2 linked regions of the Homo sapiens genome follow. The protein of the gene in region 2 purifies or fractionates together with the protein of the main gene of each other region. This does not show direct contact. Each region holds a gene or a part of one and is shown on either strand. Other genes may lie near its edges.

What was found. Proteins that work in one complex are often made in the same cells at the same time.
Region 1: the proteins of FGF4 (region 2) and UACA purify together in Homo sapiens (affinity purification with mass spectrometry; one large-scale study listed by BioGRID and IntAct). This does not show direct contact.

The regions. Positions count from the first base shown.
Region 1 is NC_000015.10:70,753,528-70,757,174, forward strand, and holds part of UACA (uveal autoantigen with coiled-coil domains and ankyrin repeats), read right to left. Parts: intron 1-3,647. UniProt on the Homo sapiens protein: Regulates APAF1 expression and plays an important role in the regulation of stress-induced apoptosis. Promotes apoptosis by regulating three pathways, apoptosome up-regulation, LGALS3/galectin-3 down-regulation and NF-kappa-B inactivation.
Region 2 is NC_000011.10:69,773,128-69,776,874, forward strand, and holds the start of FGF4 (fibroblast growth factor 4 precursor), read right to left. Parts: upstream 2,215-3,747; 5' UTR 1,958-2,214; coding exon 1,618-1,957; intron 1,001-1,617; coding exon 897-1,000; intron 359-896; coding exon 182-358; 3' UTR 1-181. UniProt on the Homo sapiens protein: Plays an important role in the regulation of embryonic development, cell proliferation, and cell differentiation. Required for normal limb and cardiac valve development during embryogenesis.

The DNA of each region.
Region 1 (3,647 bases), on a different chromosome or scaffold from region 2:
CTACCTAACTCTTCACTTATTAGCTATAGTGTCTTGGGCAGGTAAATTATTTAACTTGCATCTGAAATGATGGCAATAGTACCTACTTCTTAGGGTTGCGGTGAGGATTGAGTTACTAGCACTTAGAACAATGCCTGGGAAATACATGCTCAATAAATCTTGGCTATCAGCACATGGATTTCTCACAAGCAGTTTCTTTCTAAGTAACTCACTAGCATTTACTGAGTACTTCTAATTGGGACATTTGTATGTGCTCAAATAATTTCAAATTACTTATAATTTTTTTTGTTGCTGTTGAGACAGAGCCTCGCTCCATCGCCCAGGCTGGAGTGCAGTGGCGCGATCTCGGCTCAATGCAAATTCCGCCTCCCAGGTTCACGCCATTGTCCTGCCTCAGCCTCCCGAGTAGCTGAGACTACAGGTGCCCACCACCATGCCTGGCTAATTTTTGTATTTTTAGTGGAGACAGGGTTTCATCATGTTGCCCAGGCTGGTTTCGAACTCCTGACCTCAAGTGATCCGCCCACCTCGGCCTTCCAAAGTGTTGGGATTACAGGCGTGAGCCACTACGCCCAGCCTATATTTGGTTTTCTACAATGAACATGTATGACTTTTGTGGGACAGTCATTTATCCTAACTGGTTGAGACATTCACCTGCGCTCTCTCAAGGATACCTGGCCAGGTCCCATTCAATTACAGACAGTCCCCAACTTATGATGGTTAGACTTAGGATTTTTTGACTTTACAACAGTACAAAAGCTACATGCATTCAGCAGAAACTGTATGTACTTTGAGTACCCGTACAACTATTCTGTTTTTTCACTTTCAATAGAGTATTCGGTATTGAATTCATGAGATATTCAATACTTTCTTATAAAATAGGCTTTGTGTTAGATGATTTTGCCCAACTGGAGGCTAAGTGTTCTGAGCATGTTTAAAGAAGGTTAGGCTAAGCTATGATGTTGTGTAGGTTAGGTGTCTTAAATGCATTTCGACTTACAATATTTTCAACTTAAACTGGGTTTACCAAGACATAACCCCATAATAAGTCAAGGAGCATCTGTATAAAAATACAACTCATCGATCCTTTGCCAGTGCCTTTGGTCACTCAGCTACATCAGTTCATCTTCTGCATATCATCTTGGAGACTGTATCATTTGAAAATAAGTCAATGTCAACAATATTTAGGATTTCTGACAATAAAACAAAGCCAACAGACAAAACTGTTTGTGTGACTACAAACAATCCAATTTATTCTTGTGTTTTGGGGCTACATTTTTAAGCCTGGAAGAGACATTATCTTTTCTAATGATATAAAAGCTATATAAAGCTTTTAATTGTATTATGATTAAGGAAAATAAGGCAATGAGTATTATATCCTATTGTTCCATTTATAATTTCAGGCAGCACATTTCAACCATCCATTTTTAGGCAAATTCCCCACAGAAATCAATTTGACTTCCTTTGCATAAATAAGCACGTGCAGGTGGAAATTTCAATAATATGCTGTATCCTTTAGGTGGCAGGACAAACATTTGCAAAACTGTAACAGGACAGTAAAAGTTTCCATATGATAGTGATGAAACAATACATGTTATAACGTTCAAATCTATTATTCTTGGATCTAGTTTACCAAAGATACAAACATAAGTTAAACAGGGCTGATAAAATCAAAATTTTGCTGGCTATTAGCTAATTCTAGAGAGGAAGGGAGAAGCAGAAAGATGAACTTATAAACTCACTAATAGGATAATTTCTGAAGATGAAACTTTCATGACTAGTCAGTTCTCTCTGAACAGTGATCTAAACTTGTCAAGTAATTTAAATTTTAATTCAAGGTTTAAAAAAAAAAAAGAATGAGGCCGGGGGCAGTGGCTCACGCCTATAATCTCAACAATTAGGGAGGCCGAGGTGGGTGGATCGCCCGAGGTCAGGAGTACAAGACCAGCCTGGCAAACATGGTGAAACCCCATCTCTACTAAAAACACAAAACTTAGCCAGGCATGGTGACAGGAGCCTGTAGTACCAGCTACTCGGGAGGCTGAGGCAAGAGAATCTCTTGAACCCGAGAGGCAGAGGTTGCAGTGGGCCAAGATTGCGCCACTGCACTCCAGCCTGAGCGACAAGAGGGAGACTTATTCTCAAAAATAAAAAAAAAAAAGAATGAATGAAAACCTTCCTTTACCACAATCCCCAAGCTGCACGCCCTCTAACTCCCTATTTTCAATAGAATTCTTATTTGAAGATTTGTCTATGCCTCATCTGTGCCATCCTCTACCATAAAACCAGAATTAGTTTCCAAATCTGATGCTCCCTCAGCTGTATAATTTCACAGCTCCATACCACTGCATTTGCTCTTCTTTTGCTTGGAAAGCCACTGAAATTGTCTTTCTGGCCCAAGCTCACACTCTACCTTTCAACCTTTTTATGGGCTCACTCTACACTCTATGTGCCCCCACAGCAATTTATACCGACTTCTATAATAACTGTTAACATGCCATATTCATTTATTTTTTATATCTAGCTCTTAAAATTCTTGAAGGCTGTGACTAGCTCTTTCTAATTACAGTACAGAAATTTTAGGACATACGCTAAATACAACAGTATCACAAAAGTGAATAAGCATCATGAACCACCCAGCCGCAATTTTTTTTTTTTTGATGGAGTCTTGCTCTGTTGCCCAGGCTGGAGTGCAATGGCATGATCTCAGCTCACTGCAACCTCCGCCTCCCAGGTTCAAGCAATTCTCCTGCCTCAGCCTCCCTAGTAGCTGAGACTACAAATGACCATGCCCAGCTAATTTTTGTACTTTTAGTAGAGACAAGGTTTTACCATGTTGGCCAGGCTGGTCTCGAACTCCTGACCTCAAGCGATCTGCCCACCTCGGCCTCCCAAAGTGCTGAGATTACAGGCATGAGCCACTGTACCCAGCCCCAAATGCAGTTACTAACTCAAGACCAATCCTATTGCAACTATACCCCCAACTTACTATCCCCACCCACCCAAAGATTATTTTGAAGGAAATCCCAGACTCCAAAATATTTCTTTGAAAGATAAAGACTCAGCTGGGCGAGGTGGCTCATGCCTGTAATCCCAGCACGTTGGGAGGCCAAGGCAGGTGGATCACCTGAGGTCAGGAGTTCAACACCAGCCTGGCCAACATGGCAAAACCCTGTCTCTACCAAAAATACAAAAATTAGCCAGGCATGGTGGCGGGCAGCTGTAATCCCAACTACTCGGTAGGCTGAGCCAGGAGAATCACTTGAACCCGGGAGGCGGAGGTTGCAGTGAGCAGAGATCACACCACTGCACTCCAGCTGGGGCAACAGAGTGAGACTTCATCTCCAAAAAATAAAATGAAGGATAAAGACTCTTTATAAACACAGCCACATTACTACCACTGTCACATTTAAATGTTTCAAATAATTCGATATCATCAAGTATCCAGCTGATGATTATATTTCCTCGATTGTTTCATAAACTTTTACTTTTTACAAGTAGTTAATCAGGATCTAAATAAAGTCCATCACGGCAATTGGCTAGTATGCATTTTAATCTCTTAAATCTCTTGTAATCCATAGGTTTCTCCTCTTTTTCCTTTTCTTACAATTTATAATTTTTAAGAAACCATTTCATTTTTCCATAGA
Region 2 (3,747 bases):
AAACACACCCGCAGAACTATAAATAATTTGGTGGCAATATATACACATTTAAATAATTAATTTAAATATCTTACACCTACTCTTGCATTAAACTCTTCATCCGAAGAAAGTGCACCAAGGTGACCCTCGGCACTGCCCTCCCAGGGGCTTCCCGAGGCTGAGGCAAGGGTCCTCTGGAGGGTCACAGCCTGGGGAGGAAGTGGGTGACCTTCATGGTGGGCGACACTCGGTTCCCCTTCTTGGTCTTCCCATTCTTGCTCAGGGCGATGAACATGCCGGGGTACTTGTAGGACTCGTAGGCGTTGTAGTTGTTGGGAAGGAGAATCTCCTTGAACGTGCACTCATCGGTGAAGAAGGGCTGCAGCAAAGCAGGGCAGTGTCAGGGCTGGGGCACCTCTTGGGCAAGGTACCCAGCCTGAAGCCAGGGGTCAGAACCCCCTTCTGTCCCACCCCCCACCCTGGGCTGAGATGTCTCTGCTGAGCAGTTAAGGTGTCAAGACCCACACAGGGTGAGAAGGGGACATGGCCAGCCCACAACAGCTGGTGCTCTCACCACCTGCCCTGCACCTAGCAGCCAGAGAATTCATTCCCTCCGTGTCCAGCCTCAAGCCCGCAGTTCCAACACTGAGACCTACCCCTCTGGACTAGAGAAGGGAAGGGCTCTCAATAGCGCCCTTTCCTCGGTCTGGGAGGGGCCCACTCAGGGATGGCAGGAACCTCATTGTTCCTGCCTTGGGGCTGCTTCCTTTGTCTGGGGAGGCCTGCCGGTCCCGTGACCTGGTGACCCTGCCACCCCTCCAAGACCCAGGCACAGGTGGGGCTGGAGAAGCCACGAGCCTGCTAGCCATGTCCGCTGTTCCCAACTAGGTGCCTAGCCAGACCCCTGCGGTACTCACCGAGCCATAGAGCTTGCCCTTGCTGCTCATGGCCACGAAGAACCGGCTGGCCACGCCGAAGATGCTCACCACGCCCCGCTCCACGGGCGAGAGCTCCAGCAGGCCTGGGGGCGGGGCGCAGGTCATTGCGGGGCAGGTGATCCCTGGCCCACTCCGCCCCTCGGCTTGTTCGCCTCCGGGGACCCTATTTCTGGGGTGGGGTTGGGGATAAAGGGCCAGGGTTCCCGGCGCAGCCGCCCCCAAGGGCCTCCAGAGCCCAAGCTGCCCTCTAGGGCCTCCGGAGCCCAAGCCTGCGCTAGCTCAGATTAGCTTGCCTGTGTAGGGGACCCCCGGCGGCCGCACCCAGTCCCGGACCTTCAGACGCGAGCCCGACCCCAGCGGTTCCCCAGCCTGGGCCAGGCCGGGGCGCGTGTCTCGGGCCCCCTGTGGCTGCACCGCGCGCCCTGTGCCCACGGGCGAAGGCGCTGGAATTCGGCGCTCGGAGCCCGAGTTTCTGAAGGCGGGAGGCGGCGCCCGACCTCAGGGGTTGCGCTGGGCTGCCGGAGCCAAGAGTGTCTGCGTCCCCAGCCCCGCGTCAGAAGGGACCGGAGCCCGAGTCCGCCCCGGTTCCCGGGGCCCCCGAGCAGGTGCCCGCCGAGGGTCTCAGAGTGTGACTGAGCGGGTTGGCCCGGCGGCCGTTGCCCCCCGCCCCCGCCCCTTCGCGCCTGGCCGCGCCACTCACTGTCGCGGGTGTCCGCGTGCGCGCCGCCGATGCGGCCGTCGGGGAGCGCCTGGAGGTGGAAGCCGATGCCCACGTTGCAGTAGAGCCGCCGCAGCCGCTTGATGCCCAGCAGGTAGTCGCCGGCGCCGCTCTGGACGGCCGCCTCCTTGGGCTGCGCTGCCACCGGCAGGCGCGCCAACGAGAGCGCCACCAGGCTCTCCCAGCGGCGCTCCAGCTCGGCCTCCAGCGTGCCGTTGGGTGCAGTGGGTGCGGCGGCGCCCCCTCGGCCCGCCCAGGGCGCCAGCAAGGCCAGCAGGACCGCCGGGAGCAGCGCTACCGCGGCCGTCCCGGGCCCCGACATCCCGGCCCGAGGGCCGTGCGTCGGTCAGGCGGTCAGTGCGCCCGGGAAGCTGGGGGGCAGAGCTGCGCCTGTGGCGTCCCGCGGGAGCGCACGGCCGACCTCGGGCAGGAGTGCGCAACCGAGGAGGTGCGGGAGGCAAGCGACGGGGCCCCCGGGCGCCGGGCTCTACCCCGGCTGCATGGAGCGGCGAGCCGGGCGGAAAGCGCGCGGCTGGAGCTGGGACTCTGAGGAGCAGTGCGCGCCTCCCTGAGCGCCAGGCCCGCCCGAGGCCGAGCCGCTATATATATAGCCCGGCGCCCCCTCCTACTCGCCCGCTCCCGCGGGGGGCCGTTCGCGTTCTCCTGGGCGCCCGGGGCGCTGTGGCGTTCGCGGCTGGTCGCAGGCCGCCTGCCAATCAGGGCCGGGGGAAGGGAGGAGGCTGGGGACTAGCGCCGCGAGTGCCACCTGGAGGGACCCCGGCCCCCACCCTTGGCTCCGCCCGGCCCACGGACCTGTTCGTCCCGCCCCTTGGCGGCTCCTACACTTCTGCTTTTCAGCCAGTTTTGCCTCTTGCACTTTGTCCCTGCCTGTCCCCGTCCCCGTCTCCCTCTCTGCTCCGGCCGCCTTGGCGCAGCCCTAACTCGGGCATCCGAAGCTCCTAGTGGGCGCAGAAGCCAGCGGCTGCTGCCTGCCCTTCGCCTTTCGGAGGCTCACGGGAACTTGGTTCCTTTGCTGGGGCCTTGAGGACCGGCCTGGGAAGGAGGGGTGGATAAGAGCAGTAAGCGACACCGGGGCCTGGCTGGGCAAGGGAGGACCCTTTGGCTACAGGCGGGAGGGAGGCCACCCCCACCCCCTAGGTCTTGGCCCCACAGGCTTGGCGCGTTTCTGGGCTGGAGTTCTGAATACCTGGTGGAGGTCCACCTGAGCCAAAGGGCAAGGTGGCAGAGATGCACCCAGGGAGGCCTGGTCCTGCACCCCCTACACACACACCCTTCCGTGAAAGGACAGGTAGCAGGGCATAGGGCCAGAGGGGATATTCAGCATCCCCTGCTCCTTTGATTCCACAGCAGAAATATCCATGTACCATAGCCAGAGCCCTCAATCTAGCAGGGACCCAGGCCAGGCCTCTGGAAGCCTCCCCTCTCTCACTCATGGTTCTACCTCCCACTGTGCCCATTATGGCCTGATGGGGACTGTCCTAGCTAGATGCAGGCCCACCTAGGTGTGAAAACCCCTGTTCTTTGTGGTCCCTGAGGAGCCTGCCTGGCCCTTCCTGCAGGCCCGCCTAGCCACAGCTGCAGGGGGCTTGGTGCCTACCCCATCTCTCATACCACCAGCACCTGTGACCAGAGATGTCCCCAGGCCACCGCAGCCTCCTCCACCTCCACCGCATCCCCACAGGGAGATTCCTGGGACCCCTTCAGAACCCTGCTGGGGCTTATTCGTGCCCCTGGAGGGGACCTGGGAGGCTTGAGGGCTCTTCTCTGAGGTGCAGAAAGGGGGGCACTTGGGGGTCATCAAGTGGCTTTGGCAGGACCGGAACCTCAGCTCCGCACCCCTTGAGAGGATCTTTGTTCCTCCTTGGGCCTGCAGCCTGCTTGGGCAGCGCCACCCAGACCTGGACCTTCCTGGGCTGCAGCTCACAGCTTCGAGATGCAACCCGGCTGCCTCTGGGTCCTGGGGTCCCCCAGATGAGCCTGCAGATCTGGTGCCAAATAGACATCGTTGGCCAGGGTGCAGGGTGCAGGGTGCAGGGGACCTAGAACCCATCCCTCACTTGCTGTGTTGTCTTTCCATCTCTAGGTCCCTGA